4 linked regions of the Homo sapiens genome follow. The protein of the gene in region 4 purifies or fractionates together with the protein of the main gene of each other region. This does not show direct contact. Each region holds a gene or a part of one and is shown on either strand. Other genes may lie near its edges. The genes, in order: CHFR, PBX3, PKNOX2 and C5orf24.

Region 1 (8,318 bases), on a different chromosome or scaffold from region 4:
CAAGGGAAACAGGCCCTTGAAAAGAAGGTAACGTGGAGTGGGTAGCCCCCGTATCGATTAAACAGGGGATGGACTTACCCGCCACTGTGAGAGTTACCCGAAGCTCAGCATCCATGATGGTCCAGGGGGCTTCCAGGGTGATCAGGCAGCGTCAGTCTTCAGCCGCTAAGCCAAGCAGATCTTGGAAGGAGTCAGTCAGAGAGTCTTGGGCTAGAGCTTTAGGGGCTCTAGGGGTGGCTGCCAGGCGAGCTGGGCAGTCTGATTTCCAGTGGGTCCCTGCACAGATGGGACACGGCTTGGGAGGAATCCCAGGCTATGGGCATTCCTTGGCTCAGTGGCCAGATTTCTGGCACTTGAAGCAAGATCCTGATGGAGGAAGTCTTGTAAGAATGCTTGACTGCTGTGGCTTAGGTGTGTGCGGCTTAGGCATTTTGAATTTCTTGTGTGCTGGAGGTGTGGCTGGGTTTTGTCTTACAGCAGAGGCAAGTAATTGTAACTCAGAAATGCGTTGCCGTCTGGCTGCCTCCTCTCTATTATTGTACACCTTGAAGGCAAGGTTGATTCATTCCTATTGTGGGGTTTGAGGGCCAGATTCTAATTTTTGAAGTTTTTTCCTAATGTCAGGAGTGGATTGGATGATAAAATGCATATTAAGAATAAGGCGGCCTTCTGGCCCTTCTGGGTCTAGGGCGGTAAAGTGTCTGAGTGTTGCTGCTAAGCAGGCCATGAACTGGGCTTGGTTTTCGTCTTTACCTTGGGTAGTTTCTTTAAGCTTGTCATAATTAACAGGTTTGTAAGCTGCCTTTTTAAGCCCTTCAACTAGGCAGGAAATCATGTAATCTTGCCTAGCTGTACCTGGGGAATCTGCCTGATAGTTCCATTGGGGATCCTCTCGGGGAACTGCTCTGATGCCTTCCTGGAGGTATGGCTCGTGAAGCCGGTGGTTATCAGCGTGAGATTGGGCTAGAGAAAAAACTCTTTCCCGTTCATCTGGGGAGAGGGTAGAAGTCAGGATGACATTTAGGTCACTCCAGGTTAACTTGTAGGACAAAGTTAGATATCGGAATTCCTGTATATGTTTAGTGGGGTCTGATGAGAAAGAGCCTAAATGTTGACTGATCTGAGAGAGGTCTGATAGAGAAAAAGGCACATGTACCCTGACTATGCCTTCAGCTCCAGCCACCTCTCTAAGAGGAAATTGTTGGGCAGGTGGGGAAGAGCTAGTCAAGGAACTAAACTGTAAGCCGGACCGGGTGTGAGGAGGGGAGGTGACAGAAAGATTATAGGGTGGAGGAGCGGAGGCTGAGGAAGAATTGGGACTTAGCTTGGCCTGGCGACGAGCAGCCTGGGGAGGAGGGGAGAGGTCAGATGGGTCTGTAGAAAAGGAAGACTGGAAAGACTCAGCGACGCTTGGGGTTGGGACTGAGGGAACAGGCAGGAGGGAGAGAAGGAGGATTTGGGAGGAATCGCATTGGGAACAGAGACTAGGGAGGGAACGAAGTGTGAAAAATGCCTGGATGTAAAGCACCTCAGATCATTTGCCTATTTTTTGACAAAAATTATTTAGGTCTTGTAGAATGGAGAAGTTGAAAGTGCCGTTTTCTGGCTATTTAGAGCCATTGTCAAGTTTGTATTGGGGCCAAGCGGTGTTGCAGAAGAAAACAAGGCGTTTAGGTTTTAGGTCAGGTGTGAGTTGAAGAGGTTTTAAGTTTTTGAGAACACAGGCTAATGGAGAAGAGGGAGGAATGGAGGGTGGAAGTTTGCCCATAGTGAAGGAGGCAAGCCCAGAGAAAAGAGAGGGTAGAGACATGGAGAGAAGGGGGTGGGGGGTGCTTGCCACCCAGGAAAGTGAAGAAGGGGTAGAGACACGGAGAGAAGGGGTTGGGGGGTTCTTGCCCCCCAAAAAAGCATTACTTGCCACTAAGGGTGAAGGACCAAGGCAGGCGTCCCTGCATGGTCAGACACCTCTGAAACGTGGGTGAATAATCAGGCAGGCGTCCCTGCGCGATTAAACACCAAGGGAAGACTGTCTTCCCGAGTCCATGACCGGCGCCGGAATTTTGGGTTCATGGATAAAACGCGTCTCCTTTGTCTCTACCAGAAAAGGAAAGGAACTGAAATTAAGAGTAGGGAGAGATTAAAGTGTGGCACCAAGATTGAAAGGAGAAAGAGGTTGAAGGATAGTGAGAGAGGTGGGAGAAGAGAGTGAAAAGAGGCCATTACCCGATTTAAAATTGGTGAGATGTTCCTTGGGCTGGTTGGTCTGAGGACCTGAGGTCGTAGGTGGATCTTTCTCACGGAGCAAAGAGTAGGACAGGGGATTGATCTCCCAAGGGAGGTCTCCCGATCCGAGTCACGGCACCAAATTTCACTCGCGTCCATGTGAAGAGACGATCAAACAGGCTTTGTGTGAGCAATAAAGTTTTTTACTCACCTGGGTGTAGGCGGGCTGAGTCCGAAAAGAGAGTCAGCAAAGGGCAGATAGGGGTAGTGGGGCCGTTTTATAAGATTTAAGTAGGTAAACGAAAATTACAGTCAAAGGGGGGTTGTTCTCTGGTGGGCAGGGGTGGGGGTCACAAGGTGCTCAATGAGGGAGCTTTTTGAGCCAGGATGAGCCAGGAGAAGGAATTTCACAAGGTAATGTCATCAGTTAAGGCAAGGACCGGCCATTTTCACTTCTTTTGTAGTGGAATGTCATCAGCTAAGGCAGGAACAGGCCATTTTCACTTCTTTTGTGATTCTTCAGTTACTTCAGGCCATCTAGGCATATATATACATGCAGGTCACAGGGGATGCGATGGCTTAGCTTAGGTTCAGAGGCCTGACATGATCCACCTGCCTCAGCCTCCCAAACTGCTGGGATTACAGACGTGAGCCACTGCGCCCAGCCGGTTTTACACCTTTTAGGGAGAAAGTTCATAGATGGATTCAAAGATTTTCTGATTGGCACTTGGTTGAAAGAGTTGTTATTATCTAAAGACCTGGAATCAATAGAAAGGATTGTCTGGGTTAAGCTAAGGGAGACAAAGTTTCTATTTTGTTATTTTTTTTTTGACAGGGTCTCTGTTGCCCAGGCTGGATTGCAGTGGCACAGACTGTGGTTTACCGCAGCCTTGTCCTCCCGGGCTCAAGGAATCTGCCCACCTCAGCCTCCTGAATAGCTGGGACTATAGGCATGTGCTGTCATCATGTCCAGCTAAGACGGGGTCTCCCCATGTTGCCCAGGATGGTCTGAATTCCTGGGCTCAAGCGATCCACCCACCTCGGCCTCCCAAAGTGCTAGGATTACAGGCTTGAGCACCACCACTCTGGCCATTCTAATGCAGATGCCGCTCCAGGCAGCAGGCTTCAGAGAGAATAGATGGTAAACTTTTCTTATCAGAGTTAAAAAGGTGCCAGAGTCTTACATTCTCTCCTGGATCAGGAAAAGATGTGGAAAAGGAAGGAGATTCTCTACAAAGTAGATTTCCCCCAGGAGACAGTTTTGCAGGGCTACGTAAAACTATGTTAAATAAATACATGTCAGGGTAAAATACTTCGTTTTCTTCCAGGGCCTGCTATTTGTCATGTGATGTATCTTAATGCTACAGACCGTTTGGTCAGCCTTAAGTTGTCTGTTTTAACGTCGACGCTGGTCAGTTATACCTGAATTCCAAAGGGAGGACAGTATAATGGGACATATCCAAACCCTGCTTCCCATCAGGGACTGAACTGGTTTTTCAGATTAACTTTGGCGTTGAGAGACTCAGTTCATTCAGTTGGTTGGGGAGGCTTACAATTTTATTTTTGGTTTACAAGGTATAGATAACTATGCCTATACCTATATATACAAATGTTTATATATGTATATATGTGTGTATATATGGTTTGTTTTACACAAATGGATGCCTACTTTATTTATTTTGGTAGCGATGAGGTCTCAGGCTAATCTCGAACTCCTGGGCTCGAGATCCTCCTGCCTAGGCCTTCCAAAGCACTTAGATTACAGGCGTAAGTCACTGCGCCCGGTCCTGCTTCACCCTCTTAAAACCGCCCTTGGGGGCTCCTCATGAGTGCAGACATTGGCGCGTTCCTCCAAACCGCACAGACTCCCCCTGCGTGGACGCGTCTCGCCGTCTTTACTCCTCTTTCGCCGACCTTTCACTTTCAGGGAATACCCTCTGGCGCCCTTCTCTGGAGCACACACGTGAACGCCGCCGGATTCCAAGAAGTGAGATACTGAGGCAAAAGTTACGCGCGTTCAGAACAGGAAGACCCCGCAAAACGCCGGCCAAGACGTGGCCCCGCGTCCACCCTGCCCACAAGCAGCCGCTCCCACTCGCGGACCGCGCCCTGTGCCTCAGACTTCGGATCTGTGTGATCCACTGTGTGCAACTGTACCCGAAAGGGTCCCCACGTGCACTACCTCGTGACAACTAAGATGGACCGTCTTCTACTCCTAGGAGTCATCCCCAGATTAGCGGGGCTCTCAGAATCCTTGGGGCTTCCAATCCGGAAGTTCCCCGTCCCTTCTGCCCCAACATAACATGGCGCCGACCGCAGCCACTTCCGTGATCCGCAGGCGACGAAGTCGCCTGGTCAGGATCAAAGATGGCCGAGCGCCCTCCACGCGCCTACTCTCGCGGGCCACTCCCGGCTCCGCTTTAGCTGCCGCTCTTGGTGAGCGCCGCCGCCAGCCAATCGCGGGGCGCAGAGGCCTCTGGCCCCGCCCCGCGGATCAGCTGAGGGAGCCGCAATGTCTCTTGACAGCGGCGGCGGCGCAGCCGGTTCCGGGTTCGGCGCGGGGCGGGGGTAAGCGCGGCTGGCGAGGGGGCTGCGGCGGGCGGCGAAGGGGGACCTGGTTGCGGCCGTGGGAGGGGGCGCCCGCCGGCGTCCAGGCCGGGCTGCGGGGCTGCGTGGGCGCGGGCGGCCGGGCCGGGGCCCGCGGGGTGGGGCGGGCGCCGAGTCTCGGCCTCTGGGGTCGGGAGTCTCCATGGGCGTTTCCGGGGTCTCCGCAGATGTGAATCCCGATGGAGCGGCCCGAGGAAGGCAAGCAGTCGCCGCCGCCGCAGCCCTGGGGACGGCTCCTGCGTCTGGGCGCGGAGGAGGGCGAGCCGCACGTCCTCCTGAGGAAGCGGGAGTGGACCATCGGGCGGAGACGAGGTGCGGGGCTGAGGCCGGGGCCGGGGGCCGGGGCCGGGCAGAGCCACCGGGTTGCGGGCAGGCCACACGGGCGGCGGTGCAGTGTGCGCTCCAGATTTTTCCGTGGAGTGAAATGTCATGTAAGAACTGGTATTTATTCGGTGTTCTGCCCACCGATTCTTGCGCATGATTCACGCACATCATTTAGCCTTCGTTACAACTGTATAAGTTAGTTGTGTTCATATACTCTCCAGAATGCAATATTGTCACGTTCGTTGCCGTACAGAGTATCTTTTCTGACTGTAATGGAACGAAATTAAAAATAATAGAAGGAAAAGTGGAAAATTCACAGATATGTGGACATGAAACACCACACTCTTAAAGCAACCGGTGGGTCAAATAAGTCTTTACAACGGGGACCTTGTTTTGAGACAAATGAAACAAAAATAGAATACACCAAAAGGTATTTAGGATGCAGCCAAGGCAGTACTCAGAGGGAAATTTATAGCTGTAGTGCTTATATTAAAAAAGATCTCAAGTCCCAGCCCCTAGAATATTTATTTATTTAATAAACCTGGAAAGCTAAAAACTTGAACAAAGTCATACAACGGGTGAGAGAAAGTTCCCTCAGCCTCCACATTCACTGCCTCCAGTCTCCCAAGTGACCATCTGGTTGTTTGATTTCCTCTGAAGCCTTTGTATGGGGAGAGAAATGCGCTGGTCCTGTCAACAAAAATGTTTAGTTTGTCTGAAAATTAATGAATTAGCTCCGACATTATACTCTAAAAAGGAGCGAGGATGGGAAATATTTGCTGTTTGGAAGCAATTTTTTTTTTTTTTTTGGTTAATTTCACCCCTTATAATGTGCTTGCACCTGGTTTTTTTTGTTTTTTTGTTTGTTTTTTTGAGATAAGAGTCTTGCTCTGTGGCCCAGACTGGGGTGCAGTGGTGTGATCTCAGCTCACTGCACCCTCTGCCTCCCGGTTCAAGTGATTCTCCCGCCTCAGCCTCGGAGTAGCTGGGACTACAGGCGTGCGCCACCATGCCTGGCTAATTTTTGTATTTTTAGTAGAGATGAGCTTTCGCCATATTGCCCAGGCTGGTCTTGAACAACTGAACTAAAGTGATTCACCTGCTTCGGCCTCCGAAAGTGCTGGGATTACAGGTGTGAACCACTGTGTCTGACCTGGTTTTGTTTTTTGGGGTGTTTTGGTAGTCTTACATTCCAGTATCAAGTCAAAGTTTATTTTACAACTTTGAAAGTATTTAGATATCATCATAACATATCAAAATTATCCCTTTAAGACAAGAGGAAGTATTTGAAGATTTTTCCCTTTGTCTTTACTTGATAGACTAGGAGGTTTGGTGAAGAGCAGAGGCCCTAGAGACAAATTATGTGGGTTTCCAATCTGTCAACACATTACTCTGGGCTAACGACATCTTTCTGCGCCTATGTACCTACTTCATAGATTTGCTCTGAGGAGTTAATGAGATCATACACGGACTGCTTAGAAGGAACTTTAGCGTTAGCACTTAGCATTAGCCATTGTTATTGTAACATGTTATACATGTTATTACATGGTAGGACATTACATGTTAAGACAAGGAGAGAAAATATGTCGTTGAGTTTATCTTTTAATAGGAACGATTTTAGTGAATTTATAAATAATGTTGCCAGCAAAAACTTTAAGATTATTGTATTAGTTTGTTCATACTACCATAGCAAAATACTACATTCTGGGTGGCTTAAGCAACAGAAATTTATTTATTTATTTATTTATTTATTTATTTATTTATATATTTTTTGAGACAGAGTCTCACTCTATCACCCAGGCTGGAGTGCAGTGGCGCGATCTCGGCCCACTGCAAGCTCCACCTCCCGGGTTCTTGCCATTCTTCTGCCTCAGCCTCCCGAGTAGCTGGGACTACAGGCGCCCACCACCACGCCTGGCAGTGGTATTTTGTATTTTTAGTAGAGACGGGGTTTCACCATGTTAGCCAGGATGGTCTCAATCTCCTGACCTCGTGATCTGCCTGCCTCAGCCTCCCAAAGTGCTGGGATTACAGGCGTGAGCTATCGCGCCCGGCCAGAAATTTATTTTTTATTTTATTTTATTTTTTTAATTTTTGAGATAGAGTCCTGCTCTGTCACCCAGGCTGGAGTGCAGTGGCATGATCTCGGCTCACTGCAACTTCCCTCTTCCAGGTTCAAGCGATTCTCCTGCCTCAGCCTCCCGAGTAGCTGGGACTACAGGCACGTACCACCACACCTGGCTTATTTTTTTCTATTTTAGTAGAGATGGGGTTTCACTGTGTTGCCCAGGCTGGTCTCGAACTCCTGAGCTCCAGCAATCTGTCTGCCTCGGCCTCTCAAAGTGCTAGGATTACAGGTGTGAGCCACTGTGCCTGGCCAGAAATTTATTTTCATGGTTCAGGAGGCTGGGAAGTCCAAGATCAAGGTGTTGGCAGATTGGGTTCCTGGTGAGGGCTCTCTTGGCTTGCAGGTGGCCACTTTCTTGCTGTGTCCTCACATGGCAGAGAGGGGGACTCTGCTTGCTCTCTCTGCCTCCTCTTAAGAGGGCACCAGCCCTGTGACATCTGATTCCCACCTAGTGACCTCATTTAACATTTATCAGCTCACAGGCCCCATTTCCAAATACAGTCACATTGGGGATTAGGACTTAAATATATGAATTTTAGGGGGGTACAGACACTCAGTTACAAACATTCAGTTCCTAACAGTTGTAGAACTTGATTATTTTATTTATTTATTTTATATATATATATGTATTTTTTTTTTTGAGACGGAGTTTTGCTCTTATTGCCCAGGCTGTAGTGCAGTGGTGCCTTCTTGGCTCAACCTCCAACCTCCCGGGTTCAAGCAATTCTCCTGCCTCAGCCTCCCGAGTAGCTGGGATTACAAGTATGTGCTACCACGCTCAGCTACTTTTTGTATTTTTAGTAGAGACGGGGTTTCTCCATGTTCGTCAGGCTGGTCTTGAACTCCTGACCTCAGGTGATCCACCCGCCTCGGCTTCCCAAAGTGCTGGGATTACAGGCGTGAGCCACTGTGCCCGGCCTGATATATTTATTTTTTGAGACGGAGTCTTACTCTGTCACCCAGGCTGGAGTGCAGTGGTGCGATCTTCACTCACTACAACCTGCATCTTCCAGGTTAAAGTGATTCTCCTGCCTGA
Region 2 (9,101 bases), on a different chromosome or scaffold from region 4:
GCTGGGATTACAGGCATGAGCCAGCACGCCTGGCCTATCTGTCCCTTTTTTAAAAAATTAGCAAGGTCACCCCTCCTCCTGACAGGCTCAGAAGGCAGGGGACAGGATGCTCATACTTGTTTTAGACCTTGATTGGGACTGAGCACATTGTCTTCAGAATAAAATCAGGCTTCTATTGGTGTAGAAGGAAGTAAGCCAATGGATGGCAGGCCAACAACTGGTCATGTCGGCCCCAACTGTCTATTCTGTATGAAACTGCACCGTACTGGGTGCTATGAAGGGACATAAGAGAGGGAGCATTCTACCAAATTTTTCTAGAAATTATACATTCTGATAAATATTCTCTTTTAAAGGCATCACTTTAGAAGGATGGACTGTTATCCCACTAAATCTTTGGTAACTCAATCAAATCCATCCTTAGAAGATAAACGTTGGTCATATGTCACATGTGCTATCAACTGTAAAGACCAATTCTAAAGAGTCATTCCTGTCTGGGTGCAGTGGCTCATGCCTGTAATCCCAGTACTTCGAGATGCTGAGGTGGGATGATCCCTTGAGGCCAGGAGTTTGAACGCAGCCTGAGCACCATAGCGAGACCTCATCCATACAAAAAAAATACAAAAAATTAGCTGGGTGTAGTGGTGTGCACCTGCAGTCTCAGCTACTCAGGAGCCCTGAGGCAGGAGGATTGCCCAGGAATTCAAAGTTACAGTGAGCTATGATCGCGCCACTGTACTCCAGCCTGGGTGACAGAGCAAGTCCCACTCTCTAGAGAAACAAATCAATGAACAAACAAATAAACAAATAGATAGTCATTCCTAAAGCAATGGAGCAATGATACATTTTGAAAAGAAGCATTTAGTCAGTTTCCCCAAAGTGACAAGTTGGAGAGTGTTACCTTTTCTTAGATGTCTATGATTTAAAAAAAAATCAAATCTGTCATATTATAGTCACATCTTACGACACCTTGCCCTTGACATTTTTATGACCTAGATGAGGAAACTAACAGAGGTGGATGGAGAACAAACAGTGCAAGACTATCTAGTATGGTAGTAGGTTATGTATTACAGGCAACATATACTGAGGGAGTTTATTTATTTATTTATTTATTTATTTATTTATTTATGAGACAGAGTCTCACTCTGTTGCCCAGGCTGGAGTGTAATGAGGCGATCTCACTGCAATCTTCTGAGGGAGTTTAGAGGAGACAAAGATCAGAGAAGACAGGCATCACAGAAAAGCTTCGGAGAGGTGGGACCCAATGTGGCTTTGAAGAATGGTCTGACTGTCCTTAATTTCCCTCCTCCCCTGCCTTGAGACCTGGATTCCTCTAATATAGCTGTTTATTCTCTCTTTATTAAGCACCTAGTTACTTATTTTCATTAATTTTTCAGTTTATCTGTTAAGGTCTTGTGATTTTTACTTCATAATCTTAAATAACTTTTAAAAAAATTTTAGGAGAAATGGTAGCACTACTTTGCTCAAGCTAGAGTGCAGTGGCTATTCACAAGTGTGATCATAGCATACTGCAGCCTCAAACTACTGCACTCAAGTGATTCTCCTGTTTCTGCCTCTAAAGTAGCTGGAACTACAGTTGCATGTCACCAGCCTGGCTAAATTACTTTTTTGCACAGTGTTTTATACGGTAGTCTTTGCAGCCACATAGATCAATATTTGAATTCAAGCTCTAGTACTTACTGGCTTTGTGGTCTTGTGGAAATTTCTTACTCTCTCTCATTCTATTTCTTATTTAATAACAATCCCAAGCAGGCTGTTGTGAGACTGTAATAAGATGAAGCAAGGGAACACAGAGGATAGTGTACCCCCAAAGAAAGTGCTCAATAATGGCATCTGCTGTGATAGTCACCCTATTGATGACAGAGGCAATGGTGATGTTAATATAAACTCATGGAAAGGGATGGCCATGAAGGAACATCTGCTTGGTTTTCACCACTTTGTCACTGTTAACTTTACATGAATGTCTGCTCACCAAAAGTCAATTTCATTTCCCTTGACATTTTAATAATCACTACCTTAGAAACAGCAAAGACAGACTCGGGTACTCAGGGAACTTCTGTTCTGTCATCTGTGAAGGCATCAACCTTGTGACTCAGATTCTTGAGCAGAGATCACGCAACATTCTACATGAGACACTGGCACGAGCACCAAGAGATCCTGGAACATCTGCAATTAGTTGACAGTTATATTGAGGCTTGGAAACCAGTCTAAAAAAGTTATGCTTTAAATCAACGGCAGTTGTCAATGAGCCTGTGAAGGAATCCTTGCTAGGGTCCTCAGGCTTCTACTGCAACTCATACTGATAACAACAAAAAGAGAAGCCTCCCAAGCAGAAGGTCAGTCTAATTCAATCACTTAAGGCAGAATTATGGTATCAAGTTTCCACATCACTGAATGACCATGGGTGTAGAGGAGTGTACCATAAAATAACTGTGGGTGTTAGACATTTAACAAGTTGTTTTATTCCTAATTGCTGGCATTTGCCTAACTGTTTTCTTAATTCTAATTTATGTTTTTATGTTCCAGTGTGTTTACACAGCCCATAGTTCCCAATTGCCTTTATTTGCTTAAGTGTTTCTTTATTTACTTTTTTTTTTTTTTTTTGAAAAGAAGTCTCACTCTGTCGCCCAGGCTGGAGGGGAGTGGCACAATCTCAGTTCACCGCAACCTCCACCTCCTGGGTACAAGTGATTCTCCTGCCTCAGCCTCCTGAGTAGCTGGGATTACAGGCGCCTGCCACCAAGCCCAGCTAATTTTTTGTATTTTTAGTAGAGATGGGGTTTCACCATGTTGGCCAGGCTGGTCTCAACTCCTGACCTTGTGATCCACCTGCCTCGGCCTCCCAAAGTTCTGAGATTACAGGCATGAGCCACCGGCCTATTTACATTTTTATATATGTTGCTTTGCTTACATAACTCATTGTTCGGAGTGGGCTAGAAATAACCATAAATCCCCATTGCTAATTAGCCTCATCCTCATGACTGATTAGTCAAGATTATGAGTCTAGAAGGAGGGCAGAGAGGAGTCCTAATAGTGAGTCACAGGATTATTGAATTTTACAGCTGGAAGGAATCTTAGAATTTAAGGCATCTTTCAGTTAGAATTCTGTGGTTTTGCATCCTCAGCGTTGGAGAATTATGAAAGGTTGACCGCTTGCTCCTGCGCCTTTTGGCAAAAATGCTTAAGAATTTGGTGACAGCTTTAAAAAACAAATTAAGAATAAAGAAAAAACCCAATCAATGACGATTATAAGTAACCCATAATGGGGGCTTCAAAGAAGAATTGGAAACTTGACATATCAATGGGGTATAGAAGAGCAGAGAATATTAATGAACATGAAGGGGGTTCTTCTTTGGAGGTAAGTAAGCAGAGTGGATTTTTTGGAACTCCCTCCTCAGCAGCTGTGCAGTTTGTAAGGATTTTAGCTTGCCTAACTGTAAGCTTAGCTATTAGCTTTGCAGTGGGGAGTATTTAAAAGTACACACAACATATGAAGGAAAGAACCTGGAACCGAGTAGCCTGCTTCATTCCAAGAATCCATCTGGCATTTAAAGAACTGCTTGTCCTACATTAAACCCTGCAGAGTAAGAGCCATTTTTCATATCCTCATACCCCTATTTTTGGTTTCAGGTAAGACAGCTTACTGAGTTTGGAGAAGGAACAAAGAGACTTTTCCGAACCACCGAACCAAAGGACTCATCTAGGGTGAGCTCAATGAATCTAAAATCGGGAACACACATTGCAGCCCCTGTTTGGGAAATCAGCTTAAGAGCAATCTCAAGTCTCCACAAGAGGCGGAGGTCCATATTCCAAAATAATGTGAGCCTTCAGTTATTTGTAGGTAGAATTCAATGGAAGAAGGGGTGTTATAGATACGAAAAATCGTGGCTGGCGTTACCAACATTAAATGACTCGTGGTGATGGGGTAAGTTGACAAGTGAAATCCAGTCTCTTCCTAAACAAACGTATCTTTGTAATGAAGAGCTCGTTTTTGCAGCTTCAGTACATCTGGAGGCATCGAATAGCAAACGCTGCCAAAGGAGTAGTCCCTGGATTATCAGGAGTTGCAGAGTGTGTAAAGTGTTGTAAACCTTGAAATTAGTCCTGGACTGAAGGCACTTTCCCTCCTCCCAGACTCGCTTCTCTCTGACACATTTCCCCTTTCAATGGAAAGTCTATGGCAGTCAGGTCCACTCAGCTCAGACTTCAAGTATGTGAGACCACAGGTTCCCACCTTAACTGGTCACCCATTGAGGGACAGCACAAGACCCCGGTGCTGGCGCCAACGCTGAGCTGCGCCCTCTCGGTTACCATGGCGACCGCAGGCGGGGCGAGGCCCCCACTCGCCGCTTCCCCGCCTCTGCCCAGAACCTTTCGAACGCTCCAATTGGGACGACCCTTTCTTGCCTCTGTCCCGCCCCATTCGGCTCTAAGCGCTTTGCGATTGGCCCGGGACGAGCGGCCTGGTACCCAGAGGGCACCACCTCCTGACAGGAAGAGCGGGAAAGTGCACCAGGAGCTGTCCGAGGCGTGAAGCTCACGGGCGCGGCGGGGGAGCACACGGTTGGCTTTGCAGCGAGTTGCCCACTGTCCCATACACAACCCCCCGCTCCCATGACTGCCAAAAGCATGGAGCAGGAGTCGGGGTGCGGGCACACCGTTTGTGGGCCGGCCCGGTCTATCCCGGGGGGCTAGGACGCGACGAGGTTGGAGCGAGGATCCGGCGGCACACTCCGGAGCGCGGAGTATCAGAGGCCAGAGGGAACGGGCCGGGCCCCGGGGGCGGTGCCGGCGGCGGCGGCGGGAGGCGCAGAGCCCAATGAGCGCGCGCACCGCCCCGGGGGCGGGGTCTGAGGAGCGCTCCCCCGCCCTTGCCAGCCCCCGTCCCTCCCCCCGGCGCGGGGCCGCAGTGAGTGAGTGGCACTGGCAGCCTGTCAATCCCTCGGCCCAGCGGCCTTCCAGCCCGGTCCGCGGCGGCTGCTGGCTGGGTGCGCGGCTCCGGCGGCGGCGGCGGCGACTTCTCCCGCCCTATCCATCGGCTGTCCGCCCGGCGCGCGGCCCGCCGGGGCCCTCCTCCGGGCTCAGCGCCCCCGCCGCCTCTGCCCGCCCGCTCCCAAACTTTCCTCCTCCGCCCCCCCTCGCTCCCCGCGGCCCGCCCGCAGGCCTCCTCCTCCGCCGCCGCCCGCCGCCGCCGCCGCTGCCTCCCCCGGGGCCGCCGGGGCTCGGATCCCGCCTGGCCGAGGCGGCGGCGGCGGCCGAGGAGGGCAGTGCGCAGGCTGGCGCGGGGGGCGGCGGGCGTCCCGGCAACTCGGCGGGCGCTGAGGAGCAAGTTGCGCGGGGCCGCCCGGCGGGGCGCGCGGCGGCGAGGAGGCGGCGCGGCGGCCGCGTGAGGGCAGCGGGCGCCGCCGCCTCCGCCTCCGCCACCGCCGCGGAGCCCGGCGCTTCCGCCCGCCGCTTCTCCTCAGCCTCGGCGGCGGCGGAAGCCGGAGCCGGGCGCCCGTCCTCATCGCCTCAGCCGCGGGCCCTGCCGGCCGGGCCGCCCCCTCCCCGCGCGGGCGGGGAGCGCGCGGCCGCCTCCCCCTCCCCCTCCCCCTCTTTCTTCTCCTCCCTCGTCGCCGCCGCCGCCGCCGCCGCCTCAGCCTTCGCCTCAGCCGCCGCCCGCTCCCGCCCGCGCGCGGCGGGATGGACGATCAATCCAGGATGCTGCAGACTCTGGCCGGGGTGAACCTGGCTGGCCACTCGGTGCAGGGGGGCATGGCCCTGCCGCCTCCCCCGCACGGCCACGAAGGGGCGGACGGCGACGGCAGGAAGCAGGACATCGGCGACATCCTCCACCAGATCATGACCATCACCGACCAGAGCTTGGACGAGGCGCAAGCAAAGTTGGTGTCGTCTCATTAAGCATCTTTTGTGTGTGTGCGGGAGCCGGGCCCGCGGCCGAGTCGAGGCCCGGGGTGGCGCCCGGGGCTAGGGCCGCAGCCCCCGGCGGGGAACTTTCTCCGAAAGCCGGCCGCCCGCCCCGGCCTCGGGGGGACTTGCCCGCGCCCCCCGAAGCGGGCGGGAGTCGGCAAAGTTGCTCTGGGGGGCTCGGGACGGACTCGGTGCGGCGCGGATTCCGTGGCGTCCTTTCCCCCGTCCTGCCCCTCGCAGCCCGGCCCCCTCCCAGGGATTTAAACCTCCCGCCCCGACCCCGTGCGGGCCGCGCCGCCGGGAAGTGTAACTTTCTCCTCCGGCGGGGAGTCCCGGCGCCGGCTCCCGCGGCCGCGGGACGACCTCGCGATGCGGGCGGCCACCCGGGCCCGGCGCGGGGCGATGGGCGGTTCCCTGGCGGGTCCGGGTGCGGACGGCCAAGTTCTCGGAGAGGGAGGGCCGCCTTGCAAACTTTGCCGAGCTGTCACCCTCCCGCTGGCCGCAGTCGGCCGGCCTCCTCTGCACAGGAGCGGACGCGGGAGCCCCTCCGCACCCGTCCCCTCCCCCGGGTCGCCTTCGCCTGCCCCCGGGGCGAGGCTCCCCGCGCGGGTTCGCGTCGCGTCTGCAGTGGCCGAGGCTGCTGCCTGCCGGGCAGATGGGTCCGCCTTGTTCCGGCTGCAGCTTTCGCCGCCGGGGCTTGCTGGCTGTCGGGAACTAGTCAACTGGAGTTTTTGTTGACTTCCCACGGTTCAAAAGGGCCTTCCAGAATGGGGGGCTGGAATTAAATCTTGGGTCTAACTTAAAGGAAGGCGCCATATTATTCCATAGGTGATGCTAATACCTTTGTGTTTCGTTATTTGTTTTTTAGGAAACATGCCCTGAACTGTCACAGAATGAAACCAGCGCTCTTCAGCGTCCTGTGTGAGATCAAAGAGAAAACAGGTAAGACGCTGCGCCCCGCAGTGGGCCTGGAGACCCCCGAGGTGGGGGTCGGAGCTACTCCTTCGACTCTCCAGTTGAGAGCTGCTGCTTTTGGGCACCGCCATCTTTGATCATTCTCTCCTTCCCACGTCCTGATCTTGAGAAAAAACTGCAATAAATCTGGAGTCAATTTCTCAGTTCTGCTCCTGGTGTAAAATGAAGTGTAGGTGCGGACCGGGCTGGATCGCCGTCCCTCGGCGGCCGCCCCTGGCTGCAGGCGGGGAGGGGGCCCGGAGCGCCAGCCGCCCTCTTCCCTCTCCTTTCGCCTTGTTTGTGTGTCAGTTTTTAAAAGGAGCAACGGGAGACTGGATGCCAGGACCGAGTCCCCGGGAGAAGCATCGCCCGAACTTTGTTTTACTTAGACAGTCTTAAGCTTCAGCTGCACGGATAGAAGAATAGATGCAATTGAACAGACCCCAGTAGCATGCTTGAATTAGTGTTTTAGGTGGGAAGGCTACTTTAGAGAATCGAGGAAGGGTAATGATGTGTAGACACATACGATGTATTACATCTGTTAATACTTGTATTATTTTGTATTCTGAAGTCATTACACTTGTAACTGTGCTTAATATATAAAGTATAAAAAGGTCTACAGATGCAGGTTAAACAATTTTGAAGTGTCCAAGTCAGGGAATATATAAGAAGATAGGTTTTGCAGAAGTGCTGGAATGAAAACTACAGGTACATATTTGGCAAATTTTTGGCAATTCGTTTCAGTTTAACTTTCTTGTCAGACTTTATTAATTGAAGGTCTTTCAGTCTTGACGTGAGGTAACTGCTCAAACTGAAGCAGAGATTTGGATGTTTTAGTTTGTATTTGGCATTATCTTCCCTGTATGTGGCAAACAAGTACATTAAACAAGCTCTACTGTTTATTTTTTTCCTGTTCTTTTCTTTCTTTTTTTTTTTTTTTTTGGTGTGTGTTGGATGTATGGTATTTTAAAGTTGCCATTTTGAAAGTTGAGGCAAAGGAGAAAAAGTTGAAGTCCAGGATATAGCACTATCCAAGGGAGGCTATTTAGAAGGTTACATGTGATTGTGTTTAAATTGAGTGTACAAATAGCACAGTGCAAATAATTGTTAGGTTGATAGGCGAGTCAGCCTTCTTTGAAACAGGTTTTTCGCTTTGCAATACTATTCTGATCCTAAAAGTAATCAAGAAAAGATGATGAGTTATTGCTGTCTATTAAATATATATGCTAAACCATAATAAGCAGCAAATAATAAGGGAGGCCAAAGAGTACTTTTCCTGGTTTTCATTCACATATTATGGCTGGTTTCTTAATGCTCAGTGATCCTTTCTTGAATTACTAACTTTTATTTTGTGTTGATTTTTAGCTACCTTTAGAAAGCGTTTTGATTTAAAGCAGTAGATAATTTTTATCTGACTGTAAAATAAGACATCTAGCATTCAGTCTTGAAGATTCTTAGTTTAGAAGCTTAAAAGTATGCAATTCTCAGTAAATTCTGATGCTTAGTGTCCAAGGGTTTTCCTGCTATCAGGGCTCCACTTCAGTTTCTGCTGACAGCCAAGCACTGGGGTATTGACTATGTTGTGAATATTAAGATTGATTCGACTTTATACAGCCTTATATTACTAGGGAGAGGGGATGGATACTTATCGCTTCTCATCCCCTTCTCATTATTTGTATTTATTTATTTATTTTTGCCTTTTTAAAGTTTTGGCCTAGCTAGCTTGAGAACTAAACCCAGCAAACTGCTTTTCATGTTGAGACATTTAGCAGCAGGCAGAATTCAATTAGGAAGCATAAGTCCTTTAGTTGCTTATTTGCACAGGACTTAGTTACACCATTCTGAAAGGAAAGTATAGTCAACCACATGTCAAAGGTGAGTTACGAAAAAGAAACAAATCTTTTCAAAGTCTGGGATTACTGGCAGAGAGAGCTTTGGTAGGGCTATTGCTATTTAAAAACCAAGAGGCAGCTGACAAAAGAAATTTTTGTGTTTTAAAATTGTTTCTGGGGCTTTCAGTGATAACTTGTAAATTAGATTCTCTTTTTGTGCTTTGGCCAGTGGATCCACATTTGCACGTTATCTCTTTTGTAAAAAGCCAACAGCCGACAAAGAGTAAAGGCGGCTGTCTGGGTAGAGGCATCTTCCTGCTAGCCTCTCTAAGCTCGAGAGGGATGGGATTTAAGTACTGAGTGATTGATGGGGGTGAAGCTCTTTCT
Region 3 (8,333 bases), on a different chromosome or scaffold from region 4:
AAGGGGTCCCGACCAGGGAGGTAGGTTATTCTCTGGGCATCTAGAGAAAGAGTGTGTGTGGGGGGTGGGAGCGGGGGGGAGGAGGGCATTGAGGGGAGGAAGATTTGAGATTTCCTCCTCTTAATATTAAACCCACCATCCCAGCCCCCTGCACCCCTGGCAGGGAGAGCCAGACAGCCCTTACAGGACACGGAAGACGCACGACCCACGACCCACGAGTGGCCTCGGCGGCCCGGGGCGCGGCGACTGCCGCCGCGGAGCTCCAAGGCTGTTGTTTTGTAGGCTTGGAATTCGTGAGAGCTCTCTCCCGCTGAGAGCCCGAGGGGGGAGGGAGCCGTGACCCCACGGAGACTCCCTGGTCACCGCCTCCCCTTTGTGAGCGGGAAAGGCTTGAAAGCCAAGAGAAAGAGAGGCTGCTCAGAATAAGGGGCAGGGGGTTACCGGAGGGAGATGGGCCCGACCACCGCTCACAGTAAAATGCCTCGTGCGAATTGCACTGAAGTATACCCAACTTGAGACTGGCTGTTTTATGATCCTCTCTGGGAGTTTACTGCTCTCTGCTTTTAAGTCTATAGATTGCTTTAAGTTAATGAAAGTGCTGCTTTCAAAAGGGGCTTTTATTGTGTGGCAGTGGCAAATCCAGTACCTCCCCTTTACTCTTCCAAAATGGGCCTGTTTAAAAAGAGGGAGCTTGCTGGATCCCACATGGCAGAGCTTGGGGGAGGGTGCCATGTGACAATGAGAATTAATAAAAGTTAATGTCCAAGTGATTCTGAAAGACGAGTTTGCTTCTTTTCCAGTCCGGTTTCATCTGTTCATTCTCGTGTTGCCTTTGGGCTTTCACTGAGTCTGCCTTTAAATGTTGCTTGGTGCCTCCCCAGCAGCCTCTCCCAGCATTGCTTTAGGTAGGCCTGACCCCTGTTCAGTTAAACCCAAACTGGATTTCAGGATTTCAGCCCAGCTGCCAATTCAAACTGCAACTAAAATATTTACTTGGGACTGGGGGAGGGGCTTTGCCTCGCGTTTAGTAAGATAAATGTGTTTAAATGCCTGGGAACCTTGAGAAGGAACAAGGCAGGCTGTTTTTCAGTGCTTTTTGCTTTTTCAATCTGTTTGGCACAAAAGGTGAGATGACAAGGTTTTTGACTAGGTCCTAACACAGAAACTGCAGTGGGCTCAGGCTGTGGCTTTGACCGCATGTCATAACCATTTAAACTGTGGTTAGTTGTTCAAAGCTCAAAGCTTCTCCAAGCTGGGTTTCATTAACTCTACACCAGTTGCCTGGAAGTTCAGTAGCAATAAATTGTATAAACACATTTGAAGTAAGTTAGTGATGAAATAAGTAGAATTACTGTCTTGTGAGTGGAGAATCCTGAATTCATGGAGTTCTAGCTTAACTGGAAACATACCTCCTCTCCCTTGGCCTTGAAGTTTATGGGTGCACCAGAGTGTGTGTTAAATTTCTTTCTGCCATGTCCATCTTCAACCTGGGCTGTAACTCATTAGAGACCAAGGCATGCCTAGAAAGCAAAACGGCTGGATTTTAAAGGGGTCTCTATTAGCTTGGTTTAGGAATCAAACCAAACCAATTGACCTGACTTCTTTACCTTCCGTGAATCCAACGTGCAACGTAAACAGCAGCAGAGCAGGGGAAAATTAGATGTTTAAATGTTAGAGGCTTAATAATACTGCGTTGTTAGCAATTGAATTTGTTTTTATTAAAGAAACAACCAATAAAATTTATAGGCTTCCAACATGTTGCAAGATTTCCTTGCTATTTATTTAGCTTCCCCCTCCCTACTTTCTGAAATTCTATCTCTAATCTCAGGCTTTTGTTCCCGATTTATTTAATCTGGAGCACATTTTCTAAATTAGTTCGAGGAGGGTGAGAAAGGCTGTTATGAGTTTTCCTTTTTCCTACGCTGTGTGGCACAAGGACTGCGATGCTGTAAGATATATATAAACGTGTGATGCAATTGCTGGAGGTGACGGCATGTGAAGCCAAGTGTCTGGATCAAACAAAACGCAGATCCGAGCATGGAGAGGGTGAAAACGATGCTGCAGAGGAAAAACTGAGGAAGTTCTAATGGAAAATGAAATCATCATGAACCACCGTTAGCCTGAGTCTAGCCAACACACCATGCTTTGTATAAAACACTTCACGTGAGATCCGTGACTTATTGAAGACTGAATTATACTGAGAAGCAGAATTTAGAGGGAGGAGCTCCACGGGCTGGGTTCTATCCAGGCAGCATGGCCAGGATTGTTGCGATGGGGATCTGCTAATTTAATTAAATCTAATACCTGGTGGGAAAGGGAGGAAGGAGGGAGGGAAGTGGTGGGCAGATAATCAAGGTTGGCAGGTCAGCATGCTGAGCTAGTGTTTAGGCTGAAATTTAGTGGCCTGGTCTCTTTTGACTCTGTTATTGCCAGGGCTGCATGACTCCAGTGGGTCATCTAGCTTCTGGGCCTTGGTTTCTTCATCTGTAAAGTGGAATGTATCACACACAGTTCTCACTAGGGTGAGATGATGGGCTTGGATCAAGCACAGGCTGCGCTCTGAGTAAAAAAAATGGGAGATAGAGGCTTCTCAGCAGCAAAGTCACATTCTTCGGTGTGTTTTCTTTCCTCGCCTGGCTCCAGGGCCTTCCCCACAACTCTCAGGAGTTCTTAGGCTATAGTAAAGGGGCTGAATTCCTGCCTTGCATTACATCCTAGAATTTGAAAGGCCTGCTGTGACTCCAAAAACCATCTACACTTTACCAAGAGGGGCAATTTTGGCTGAGTTGGGGGATCCAGCCCGCTTCTTCCAAATGGTGTTACCTGGAATAGCTGTCCTGTATCAGACGAATGCAGAATCTGACTTATCAGAAATGCAGCCCCTTCTCTTTATTCCACTGGGAAGGCAAGGCCTGAGCCCTGACTGGTGTGTGTGTGACATCTGGTCGGCTGAGGGGGTTGGGTGCTGGTCTGCAGCTAGCCACGGCCTGAACCTCTCTTAGCAGTCTCTGCTGGCAGATCAAAGCAGATTCTGGGCCAGAAAGCCCAAGAAGTTACACCCGGCACTTACACAAAACTGTGTGTGCGCTCGTAGACTCCTTCTGTTCCGGTGTCTGATTTGTAAAAGCTAGCTCTGATCCTGGAGACGCGGCTCTGGTGGAATGCTTGTCTTTAATACTCCCTAGTCTTTGGGGATTCCTTGGGGTAATTTTTCCTCCTCATTTCCTTCTCAGCCAATCACAGGCAACATCTTAGTCTCCATTTTGATTGGGGGTGGGAGACAGGGCTGGGGGTTGAGAGAGCAACAGTTGGAGGGCACAGTCTTTCTACCTGAACTCCAGGTTTTCCTCCCGTCCAGAACCCCCAGGAGAGAGGGAGAAGCAAGCCCGGGACAGCTCAGTTCATCTCACGCGGTCAAGCAGAGCTTGAGAAGAGCTTGCTGCAAATGCGTTGTCTTCAAGGGGATCTGCTGTTTGGCTTGGATGCCTCACTGCAGGCCCGGCCTGCCTGGGTTTCTAATTACAAGAAGGACGTTTCTGCTAAGACCTATCTCACTAAAAACACATCCCTGTGTGTAATAAGAAACCCTAAACCAGGCAGGATATTTTAAAACTGAAGCAATGAAGATTAGATTAAGTCTCCACCAAACAGCTTCGTTCTTGTATTATTTTTGGCTGGAATGTGGAGAAAAGCAGCTGGCCCTGGGGCCCAGAGCAGACTCTGGAGAGTTCGGATAGGGCCGGGGTGGGTGGGGTAACTGTTAGTTTTCTGCTTAGTAGGAACGTGGCCAATTTGAGTACGGCTCAGTCAAGGCAGTGGGGGTGCCCAGTGGGGGAGGGGGGAGGCTGGGGTGGAGGAGGAGCCAGATCCAGATGGGCCAGAAAGCGGCCACAGAAGCAGCAGGTCACAGGGCACTGAGGCTTGTAAATCCTCCACCTCATTAGGACGTAGTCTTTTGTGTTCAATTTACATCTCTACTCACATCGCCATCCCAAATCTAGTAGAGAGGGAACAAATAGTTGTTGAGGATTCTTGGAAATAGAACCCAGTAATCGGGCATCATGGGCAGGTGTCCTGCCTTGCTGGGGAGGGGCAGCATGGCATTCACCCATTCCCTTTGTTCTTCCATTCAGCAAATATTTATAGAGCATCTTCTGTGTCCCCGGCACAGTCCTAGGCATTGAGGAGACAGCAGCAAAAACAAAGCCAAGACATTGCCATGAAGCCTGTCCTCAAGGAGCTTGCTTGTGGTGGGGGCGGTGTTGAGTATGGGCTTTATTTAGCATCAGGCAAAACTTCATTTAGAGCCTAGCCCTGCTCTTTACCTGTCATATGGATCTAGACAAGTTGCTTAACATCTTCGATCCAGTTACCCCATTTGTAAATTGGGAAGTAAAAGCACATAGCTCACAGGACTGTTGAGGGGCATCTGTTAAGTCCCTAGCACGGTGTCTGGCACAGAGGAGAGGCTCAGTCATGGTTGACTCTCCTCTGTCATGTTATGTTGGAGCTGATGATCCAGTTGGAGGATTACCCCTTTCCCTTTCCTTTTGCTTCCCCAGAACCTGGCTTGGGCCCTTTTCCAGGTCACTGGCGTCTTCAACCAGCGTTGCACAAATAGCCAGTCAATGCTGTGGCCTGGTGCTGCCTGCTGTGCACAGCCCTGGCAGAGGCTGCAGTAGAAAACAGGTACACAGACCCTGAGGACACTTTGGGGATGAGGGGTGTCTGGGGTTAACAGTAGAGAGGGCACATACAATACACAGACCTGAGAGATGATGGACAGAGAGGTGACGTGGAAAAAGCCACCAACCAGGTGTTAACCACAGGAGACAACAGTGGGGCAGGATGTGGAGTGACCAGGACAGAGTGGAGTCACAGGGCAGACTTCTGGGAGGAAGGGAGCCTCTGCAGAGTGTTAGAGGAGGACTGGCTGAGCGGCTGGCCAGTGGGGGCATGAAACATGAGCCTCCTAGGTCATGGTGCTCTGCGCTGTCCTGGGGACTGCAAGGGAGCAGCCTGGACTAGAAGGAGGAGCTTAGCCCCCTCTACCTATCCCAGGTGGCCAGAAGTGGGCTGTCCCTGCCCCAGGAGCACCAGGTAAGGCCTTGTTGTTTGGGTCCAGTTTCCCTTACACACTGAGGGATTTCCGAGCAGACCTTTCCACGTTGGCTTCTCAATGGGTAGAACTTAGACCAATGAGTTGGTGCATGAGGCAAACAAATCACTTCACTCCTGGTTGCAACATGGCTTTCTTACCTAAGATCCCCTTTTTCCCTAAGCAGAGAGAGCAGAGACTATAGGCCCACATCCAGCCCTCTTCCATCTCAGGAACCATGAAGCTGATTGATATCAGGGTGATCGGGATGGTGGAGAGAAAGGGGGGACTGGTAGTCTGAGCATGGTGGATTCCACTGTGGACTCAGCCACTGACTGACTGTGTGACCTTCAACAAGGGACTTACCTTCTCTGGATGTCAGTGTCCTCACTTATCCAATGAGGAGCTTGAACTTGCTCTCAGAGGTCCCCTTCTACTCAAAGTTCCATGATTCCATATTTCCTCCCAATTGGATTGCTTCGTGGCTTTGTGGCTAGGCAATCATTAAAACCACCGCCACCGCCACAAATCCGAGCAAAGAATCATGATGACATTCAACAGACTGCAGGGGCTTGGCCCCTGTGGTATAGAGTCTTAAGGACAGTGGGGGCCTAGGGGTTGGTTCTGACCCTTCTGATGGCCTGCCTGGGACAAATGGATGTTCCTAGCGATAGGGGATGGCTCCATGAGGCAGCAATTTCAGTCTGAAAACTCACTGGCTTCTTCATAAAAAGCAGCATTTACTTTTCTTGTTGAGACAGCGTGGGGCTAGGGGAAGGAACACAGGCTTTGGAGTCAGATTCTGGGTTCTGACCCTGGTTCTACTACAGCTAAGCAGTGTGCACATCACTTAACCCCTCTGAGCCTCCGTTTTCTTGGCTTTATAGGTGAGGATAATAATACTACCAAGCATATTTAAGACTGCTGTGAAAACTCTGGAAGAAAACATCTGTAAGTGGTTGGCACATGGCAAGCTCATGTTGAATAAATATTAGTCTTCTGTCCTAATAAAGCTCATTCTCACATGCCCTTGTGTGATCCTCTTAGCCTTGTGAAGCAGGTAAAATGGGCATTGTATCATTTTATAGGTAAGAGAAACTGGGGCTCAGAGAGTGGCTAAAGTGGCAGGTCCAGGAAGTGGGTGCAGGTGTGTCTGTGTGTAGCAATGGAGCACATTATTTAGGGTAGCCCAGGCTTATCTTCTATGATGATGGTTCTTCCTTTAGCCTTCTGGAGACAACACAAGCCATTCCTGAGCTCTACCTAGTCCTCTCCCAAGATCTTTCATAAAAGAACCAGCTAAACTCATCTCCTCCATTACTCGAATCTTTGGCAAATGCTGGGAAGAGCTACTGTTGTGAAAACCAAAGTCTAGAAGATCTGTTTTTTACTTCCACAAAGTCTTCAGTCTCAGGTGGGGCTGGGAGGGCCCGCACTAAGAGGCAGAGGTAGATTTAGGAGCAGGGGATATCTCATGGCTATGAGTGGGGGCAGCGAGGCTGCAGTGTGGCCTTGGTCTGCCAGCCCAGGTGTAAGCTGGACCCCTGGGTGGAAAGAATTCCCTCGGGGGCTCGTGCCCGTGGTCATCAGCTCACAATCCAGACAGATGTCAAGCCGACAAACACCAAGGGGAGTTTAGCCCGTTAGTGGTAGCATCTGTCTAATTCCTATTAGGTAAGGGGAGGGCACAGGCTCTCTGGGTTCCAGCGTAGCACAATGGGTCTGTGCTGGAGTAGTGGCAAGTGAGCCCTACCCCAGAGCTTCCCCTCACGGTCCTCAGTCCACAGTGCATTGTTAAGGAATGGATGCTCCTCTGTACCAAGTCCTGTGCTAGGTCTAAATGTGATGTGACCCCTCCTTCTGAGGAGCTGTCCTGCCTTCCTCCCAGGAGACCTTCCTCTGTGGAGATTGTCAGTTCTATCTCCAGGTCCAGGGCAGGGAGACAGACGCCCAGAGAGTCAAGTGTATGCCCCGGGCCCAGGGGCGACAGGTGCTTGTTCTCATTCTCATTTCCTCCCTAAGAATCCACCTGTCAACAGGTGTGGCCTGAACCCACTATTTAATTAGTGCCCATTAGCATGCTGTGGGGAACACTCAGTGGCCTCATCCTCTAGGAGCTACATATTTTTGATGAGGAGACCAAACAAAACGCATGTGAAATTGAGAACAAGCTATATGACCTTGACTCATCTCTTAACTTCTCTGGATTTCAGAATCCTCATTTTATACAATGAGCAGGTTATCCTTGGCTCTCTTCAAGCCCCTTTCAAGTCTATTCTCCTACGACTGTCTGGGCTGTACATGCGAGGTCCATCAGGCACCATGAGTTTGTAGAAGGTGATAGGACACCAGAGAACACCTAGCCCAGCAGTGGGAAGGCTGTCTACCTGTAGGCAGGTGAGTGGGTGGGAAGATATATTGCAGAGGTAGCTGGCCTCATTTATTTGTCTGCAGGGGCCGGGAGAGTGCTTGTTGAGAGGGACCCTGCAGAGTCCCCCAGCTTCCAGGAGGGTCAGGGGGACAGAAATCAGGCAGGAGAGCCTGGCAGAGTGGGAACTCAAGACCGCTGCTCCCCTGTGGCCCAAATAGCGGTGGTGGAAGGAGCTCCTCTCCCGGCCCCTCTCCCACTCTGCCCCCCACCCACCGGCTCTGGGAGGAGACAACTGGTTTCATAGTAGGGCAGCGGTCCCCTGGGGCCCTCTTGACTTGTGAGACAGATTCTGGAGGAAAGCCAAGGAGCTCGAAAGGATTCCTCCAGCCTTCCCTGAAGCCTGTTTCCAAGGAACCTGACTTAGTCTCCGGCACTGGCATAGCACCCCTTGAGAAGTCACCTCCATTCATGAGAGCCTCTTAATGGCAGCAAGATGGGGGACTGCTAACTCCTGCTGACTTCTAGATTGTAGGGGGAGCCTCTTTCCAAGCTGGACGTCTGGTCTCCTGGAATACTTTTCAAAGTCATTTCCACTGGGTTTGAGGAGAAGGAAGGAAGGAAGGAAGGAAGGAAGGAAGGAAGGAAGGAAAGAAGGAAGGAAGGAGGGAGAGCTTCAATCCCAGGCAGTCCTCCACGGAGCACCATTGGCTGCTGGCAGGGGTAATGGGAACTTCCCAGCATTTCTGCTGCACAGAGTCCTGGTTCTGGTGGCCCTGACCTGGCCGTGGTGGAACTGGGCTCTGGGGAGACAGGCTGCCACAGCTAGCTTGCAGGTAAAGGCAGAAGAAGGATGTTCCCTGAGCT
Region 4 (5,601 bases):
TTAAGACAAGTCCAGGCAGACCTTTGGGGACAACTAAAGCTGCGGGATACAAAGTCAGCCCAGGCAGACCTCCAGGTAGCATTAAAGCTCTATCCCGTCTTGCCGATCTTGGTTATGGCTGTGGCACTGCTGCTTTTCCTTACCCTATGATGCATGGCAGAGCAGTTCATGGGGTAGAGGAAACTAGCAGTGAAGTCAAACCACCCAATGAGTGAATGAGGCAGGAAAAGAGGGCCAGGTTTAGAAGGAAGATTGTGAATAATCCCAAAGCTTCTTGGTTTTATTTTGATATACATAATTTTATGGCCTGGGCTTTCCAAATTTGTTTTCCTGTTTGGTTTTTTTCCTGCTTTTGCTCAAAAACTGCCATATGCTGACAGATGCACTCAGGGCATGAGCAGCGGCATTGTATTTGTACATAGGTTCAAGTGTAACACCTAACTAAATCATTTTTCCTTTTCCTTTAGAGTTATGGTCATGTCTCATGTTTCATTACTACTTTGGGGCTGTTCTAAATAGATGCTTTATGTGATAAACAACTGAAACCATTATACCTATTAGTTTGTGAAGTAAGCCTACAGTATAATAAAGACACTAACGTATTTTTAACTGATGGAGCAAAAAAGCAAACTAATGAATCAGGATTACTTGAGGTAATGGCTGTGTGAGTTTTTGTAACATTTATTTTCACAAGATGGGACACATATTTGTATGCTTTGGCATTTACATCCACTTCAAATGTTAAAAAACTTATTTTTAATGTTTTAGGTTTAAGCAGCTTGTAATTTATTGATCTACATGGCATTAATTGATTTAACCATTATACCTGAAATAATTCTTCAGTGTTTGCCTTTGAGCAGTGATAGGTTGTGTATTTTTTAATTGCCTAAGAGCATATATACCAAACACTACAAACAATTCATATTTACAGAAAATTTAAACTATTTTATAAAAACTGCACATTACATTTTTGGTGAAATATAGTGCATTCTGAGGATAGCATATTTCATATAATAGAAAAAGAAGCATTCTCTAGGTTTGCATGTAGCTATAGTCACTATATTTTGCCTTTCATATAGAAAGTTTTAAAGTATTATGTTTAAAAACATTTATTGGCTGGGTGTGGTGGCTCACACCCAGCACTTTGGGAGGCCGAGGCAGGCGGATCACTTGAGGTCAGCAGTTCAAGACTAGCCTGGCCAACATGGTGAAACCCCATCTCTACTAAAAATATAAAAATTAGCCAGGCGTGGTGGCGGGCGCCTGTAATCCAAGCTACTGGGGAGGCTGAGGCAGGAGAATTGCTTAAATCCAGGAGGCGGAGGTTGCAGTGAGCCAAGATTGTGCCACTGCACTCCAGCCTGGGTGACAGAGTAAGACTCCGTCTCAAATAAATAAATAAATAAATAAATAAATAAATAAATAAATAAAACCATTTATTGATGTTGCTCATTTATTTGGAACGTTTTTAGTTTTTCTCAGAAATTGTCCCATTGCATTAGCACTTACTGTGTTTTCAGGTTGATATCTACCAAAGGACACAAATTGAATGGTAGACTGTAAAACTGGTATAAACAGAATGCAGTTTCCCGACCATCAGAACCCAAATATTAAGAAGCATATAGGAATCCATCTATGCATGAAACATGTAAAAAATATGTTGGTTAGTTTAATTAAAAATCTTATTGTGGGTCCAGTGAGACCATCTCATCCAAAAGATTTTTTTTCCCCCAATGATGTTTGCTTTAGAAGCAAGATAGAAAGGAAAAAAAGTATTAGGTAGATATGTATAGTAGGGACAGAGGGAAATCTTTCTTCTTTCCTTTCTGAAAGTAATACTTCTTGTTACACATTTTATTTATTGAGTTTGTTCTAAATAAAATATTATAAACTTCAGACTTGAAAAAATTCCACTTAACTTTAAAGTTACAATGTTTGTATTTGGGATTTTAAATGCCTTTGAGATTAAAATGTAGAATTGCAGGACCCAAAAACTTTTAAAATAATTAAAATTTTAAAAGAGCACATGTTGTGTTTTTTGGGCTTGCTATTAATGCAAACTCTGATTGCAAATGGATGTCATGTTTCATACCTTTTTTATCAGGAAAAAAGCAGCAAGCCTTCAGGTGTTCCAGTGATGCCTGACACAATTGAGCTGGACTTTATGCTGCTCTTTACAGTAAGAGGTGTTGCATTGTATGTGGGGACTATGTGCACTGGCGTCTAAGACAGTGACCTCAACAATATTAGCTTTGCACAAACCATAGAGAACGATGTTGGATGGTTACATAATCAGTTATAACATTCTGGCAGCTAAATTGCTACAAGAGCTTTTTCTTGCAAAAGCTTAAAATACAAGATTTTTAATAATTTACTCAGAACAGTATAACTTCTGACACACACAAATGCTTGCCTCTTTATTCATATGTTCGTTACCTACTCTGTACATGTATCTGTCATTTAGCTGTTTCTCAAGATGATGTTCAGCAGTTGGCTGCTTAGAAATCTTTTTCAAGCCAGTTTCTAAAGACATTTGTTTAATGTTCTACCATAGAATAATGCACACCATTGTCAAAGATTTGATTATTGTGTTTTATAGTAAGTCCATTTGACATTTATTTCCCTTTCAGTTTATTTTCCTTCCTTATTTTGTTATACATACCCTTCCCTTTCTCCCCTGCCTTTCGTACATTCATTCCTCTTCCTCTACCCTCCAGCACATCTACTTACTGGTGCTGTGCTGTGTGTCAGAAGATAAAACAGGTGTATTATTGTATAATGAATTTTGTATACATGTTTATGAAATGGTGAGATCAACTAAAGGAGGCATGTTCATAACAGTGTTTATTATCAGCAGCTATGTCCCAGGAAAAAAAAATGGGAGGGGCAAATGGCTACAGTTGTAAATGGATAACATCATTTAGAAAGCCGAATTTACTGTTCATCTGAGCGGTTACCTGGAGTATTATATCTATGCACTGGTGAGCATCTCCTGATTCCACTTACTTTTCTCCCTGTGAACAGTTTACCGGTGCCATGCTGAAGAGAAAGACATCTAAGTGATAACATGAATGAAGTCTTAAAATTTAAAGTATTTTTACTGCTATATAAACTAAAGACTACATTGTGCATATTTTGTTAACACTGTCTCTTGTTATGATAAACACTGAAATAGCATGTTAAACAGTTGCCTATACTTTAATATAATCAGTTGGGGAAAACTGGCCTTTTCTCCCCCACTGTATGATTGTTTCTTGAAAGGTAAATTGCTAATTTTATACAGTGTAATTCTGTTCTTCACAAAATAGGTTTCATTATTCTATATTTAAACTGTTGGTCAGAAAATGATCTGCAATTCAAGTAAGTCTGCATTACTTTTTTCTTTAAAAAGTACTTTAACATGCCTTATTTATTATATTAGCAAATGAGCTAATAACAGATGAAATTTTCATTTTTTGACAGATATAACCTTGCATAAGTAGTATTTAGGGTGATTTTGATACTATCTTTAGAGTTTTGCATTGGATATTAAAAAATATATTGGCACAATGTATTGGAAGAAAATGAGTAGTATCTGGTTTAATTTTTAATATTTAGGGACATTTTAAAAAATCAATGTTTTAATTAGACTAAAAATTCTTTATATTTTTTATTTACTTTTTAAAGAAACATCTGTCAAAGTAATATTGATTCCAAACTGATGTTTGTGTGAATTTACATGTCTATTTTCATGAACTAAGAATAGAGTTTCTTTGAGTTGAGGAGAAAAAAATATATATGTGGGTCCATTTATTAGGTTAAAGTTGACCCATTCAGTGTAAAAATAACCATAGTGTGTGAGCTAAAGAAAAAAAAAAGTAAATTTCTCCTTTATATTCTAAGAAGCTTTAAAAGAACAATTCAGGGGTTATTGATAACTGCTACTCTGTCGGTCATTGTCTCTATATGCAGTAAAATTTTATGGTCCCTTTATAGGAATATAAAGAATTCAAAACAGTTTTTCAAAAGATTTTTTTCCTTGGACATAAAAAATTTTGATGCTATTCTATTTTTGTTTTTATTACAGCTTAACTGTATGCTGTTAAACTCTAGGATGTATCTGAATCTTTCCTTTTTTCCCCCCTCCTCCAAATATATAAATCTGTGCTCTCACATGTAATGTATTTAATTTTTGGAAAATTTAATGCTATATAGTAAATCAAGTGTGTGATTTAAAGTAATCAGATCACTTTGATTCTTTTAAGTTTTCAGAATTTCTTTTTTCCACAGGTAATTTTGGAGAAAATAATTACCAATTAACTGATAATAAGCACGCTGTCCTCTGCTGTAAAAAGTCTGAATAGATACTGTGTATGTTTTTATGTCCATGAACTTGAGCTACTCGTGTGCAATTATGTGTATGGGAATGGAGTAGTGTTCATGATTTGTATCTACATCATCATATGGATGTATATTTATTAATAAAGTCATTACTTTAAAACCAGCTATGTTTACTATGTTTTTTAGTGTGGTACTTTTCAAGTACTTAAGTGGTAAATGGTAAACCTTTTTCATGACTGTAGATCTTGTGTTTTTCTTAGAATTTTGCTTTTTTTTTTTTCTTTTTTAAGACAGGGTCTCACTCTGTCACCCAGGCTGGAGTTCGGTGGCGTGATCATAGCTCACAGCAGCCTTAACCTTCTCGGCTCAAGCAGTCCTCCTACCTTCCCACCTCAGCCTCCCGAGTAGTTGGGACTACAGGTACCTGCCACCATGCCCAGCTAATTTTTTATTTTTTTATTTTTATTTTTATTTTTTTTGGAGACAGAGTCTCACTCTGTCTCCTAGGCTGGAGTGCAGTGGCGCGATCTCCGCTCACTGCAAACTCCGCCTCCCAGGTTCACGCCATTCTCCTGCCTCAGCCTCCTGAGTAGCCTGGATTACAGGCGCCCGCCACCACGCCTTAATTTTTTAATTTTTGTAGAGATGGGGTACCCTATGTTGCCCAGGCTGGTCTCAAACTCCTGGTCTCTGGCCAGGCGTGGTGGCTCACCCTTGTAATCGCAGCACTTTGGGAGGCCAAGGCGGGTGGATCACGAGGTCAGGAGTTTGAGACCAGCCTGGCCAAGATGGTGAAACCCCATCTCTACTAAAAATACAAAAATTAGCTGAGCGTGGTGGCAGTTGCCTGTAATCCCAGCTACTTGGGAGGCTAAGGCACAGAATTGGTTGAACCCGGGAAGCAGAGGTTGCAGCAAGCCGAGATCATGCCACCGCACTCCAGCCTGCACGACAAACAAACTTAAAAAAAGATAAATCAGAATACAGCTAGAAATAAAAAAAGATGCATCAGACAAATAGTTCTACTAAAAGGCTAATATTTAAATTTAAACATTATTGATCCTTTTGGTTTTTTTTAAAAATTAGATATTAAACATGGCTCATTTTTAAATTTATTTTGAGATACAGTCTCTGTCACCCAGGCCAAAGAACAGTGGCACAATCATAGCTCACTGCAGCCTTGAACTTCTGGGCTCAAGTGATCCTCCCACCTCAGTCTCCAAAGTAGCTGGGACTACACCCAGCTTATTTTTTTTTTTAAGTTTTTTTTGTAGAGACAGG

Evidence for each region.
Region 1: the proteins of C5orf24 (region 4) and CHFR purify together in Homo sapiens (affinity purification with mass spectrometry; 2 studies listed by BioGRID and IntAct, with this or other methods). This does not show direct contact.
Region 2: the proteins of C5orf24 (region 4) and PBX3 purify together in Homo sapiens (affinity purification with mass spectrometry; 2 studies listed by BioGRID and IntAct, with this or other methods). This does not show direct contact.
Region 3: the proteins of C5orf24 (region 4) and PKNOX2 purify together in Homo sapiens (affinity purification with mass spectrometry; 2 studies listed by BioGRID and IntAct, with this or other methods). This does not show direct contact.

The regions. Positions count from the first base shown.
Region 1 is NC_000012.12:132,884,020-132,892,337, reverse strand, and holds the start of CHFR (E3 ubiquitin-protein ligase CHFR), read left to right. Parts: upstream 1-4,732; 5' UTR 4,733-4,791; intron 4,792-4,997; 5' UTR 4,998-5,009; coding exon 5,010-5,142; intron 5,143-8,318. UniProt on the Homo sapiens protein: E3 ubiquitin-protein ligase that functions in the antephase checkpoint by actively delaying passage into mitosis in response to microtubule poisons.
Region 2 is NC_000009.12:125,741,754-125,750,854, forward strand, and holds the start of PBX3 (pre-B-cell leukemia transcription factor 3), read left to right. Parts: upstream 1-5,619; 5' UTR 5,620-5,700; coding exon 5,701-5,900; intron 5,901-6,429; exon of another isoform or gene 6,430-6,675; intron 6,676-6,796; coding exon 6,797-6,870; intron 6,871-9,101. UniProt on the Homo sapiens protein: Transcriptional activator that binds the sequence 5'-ATCAATCAA-3'.
Region 3 is NC_000011.10:125,167,133-125,175,465, forward strand, and holds part of PKNOX2 (homeobox protein PKNOX2), read left to right. Parts: intron 1-8,333.
Region 4 is NC_000005.10:134,855,253-134,860,853, forward strand, and holds the end of C5orf24 (UPF0461 protein C5orf24), read left to right. Parts: coding exon 1-215; 3' UTR 216-2,104; coding exon of another isoform or gene 2,105-2,145; 3' UTR 2,146-4,483; downstream 4,484-5,601.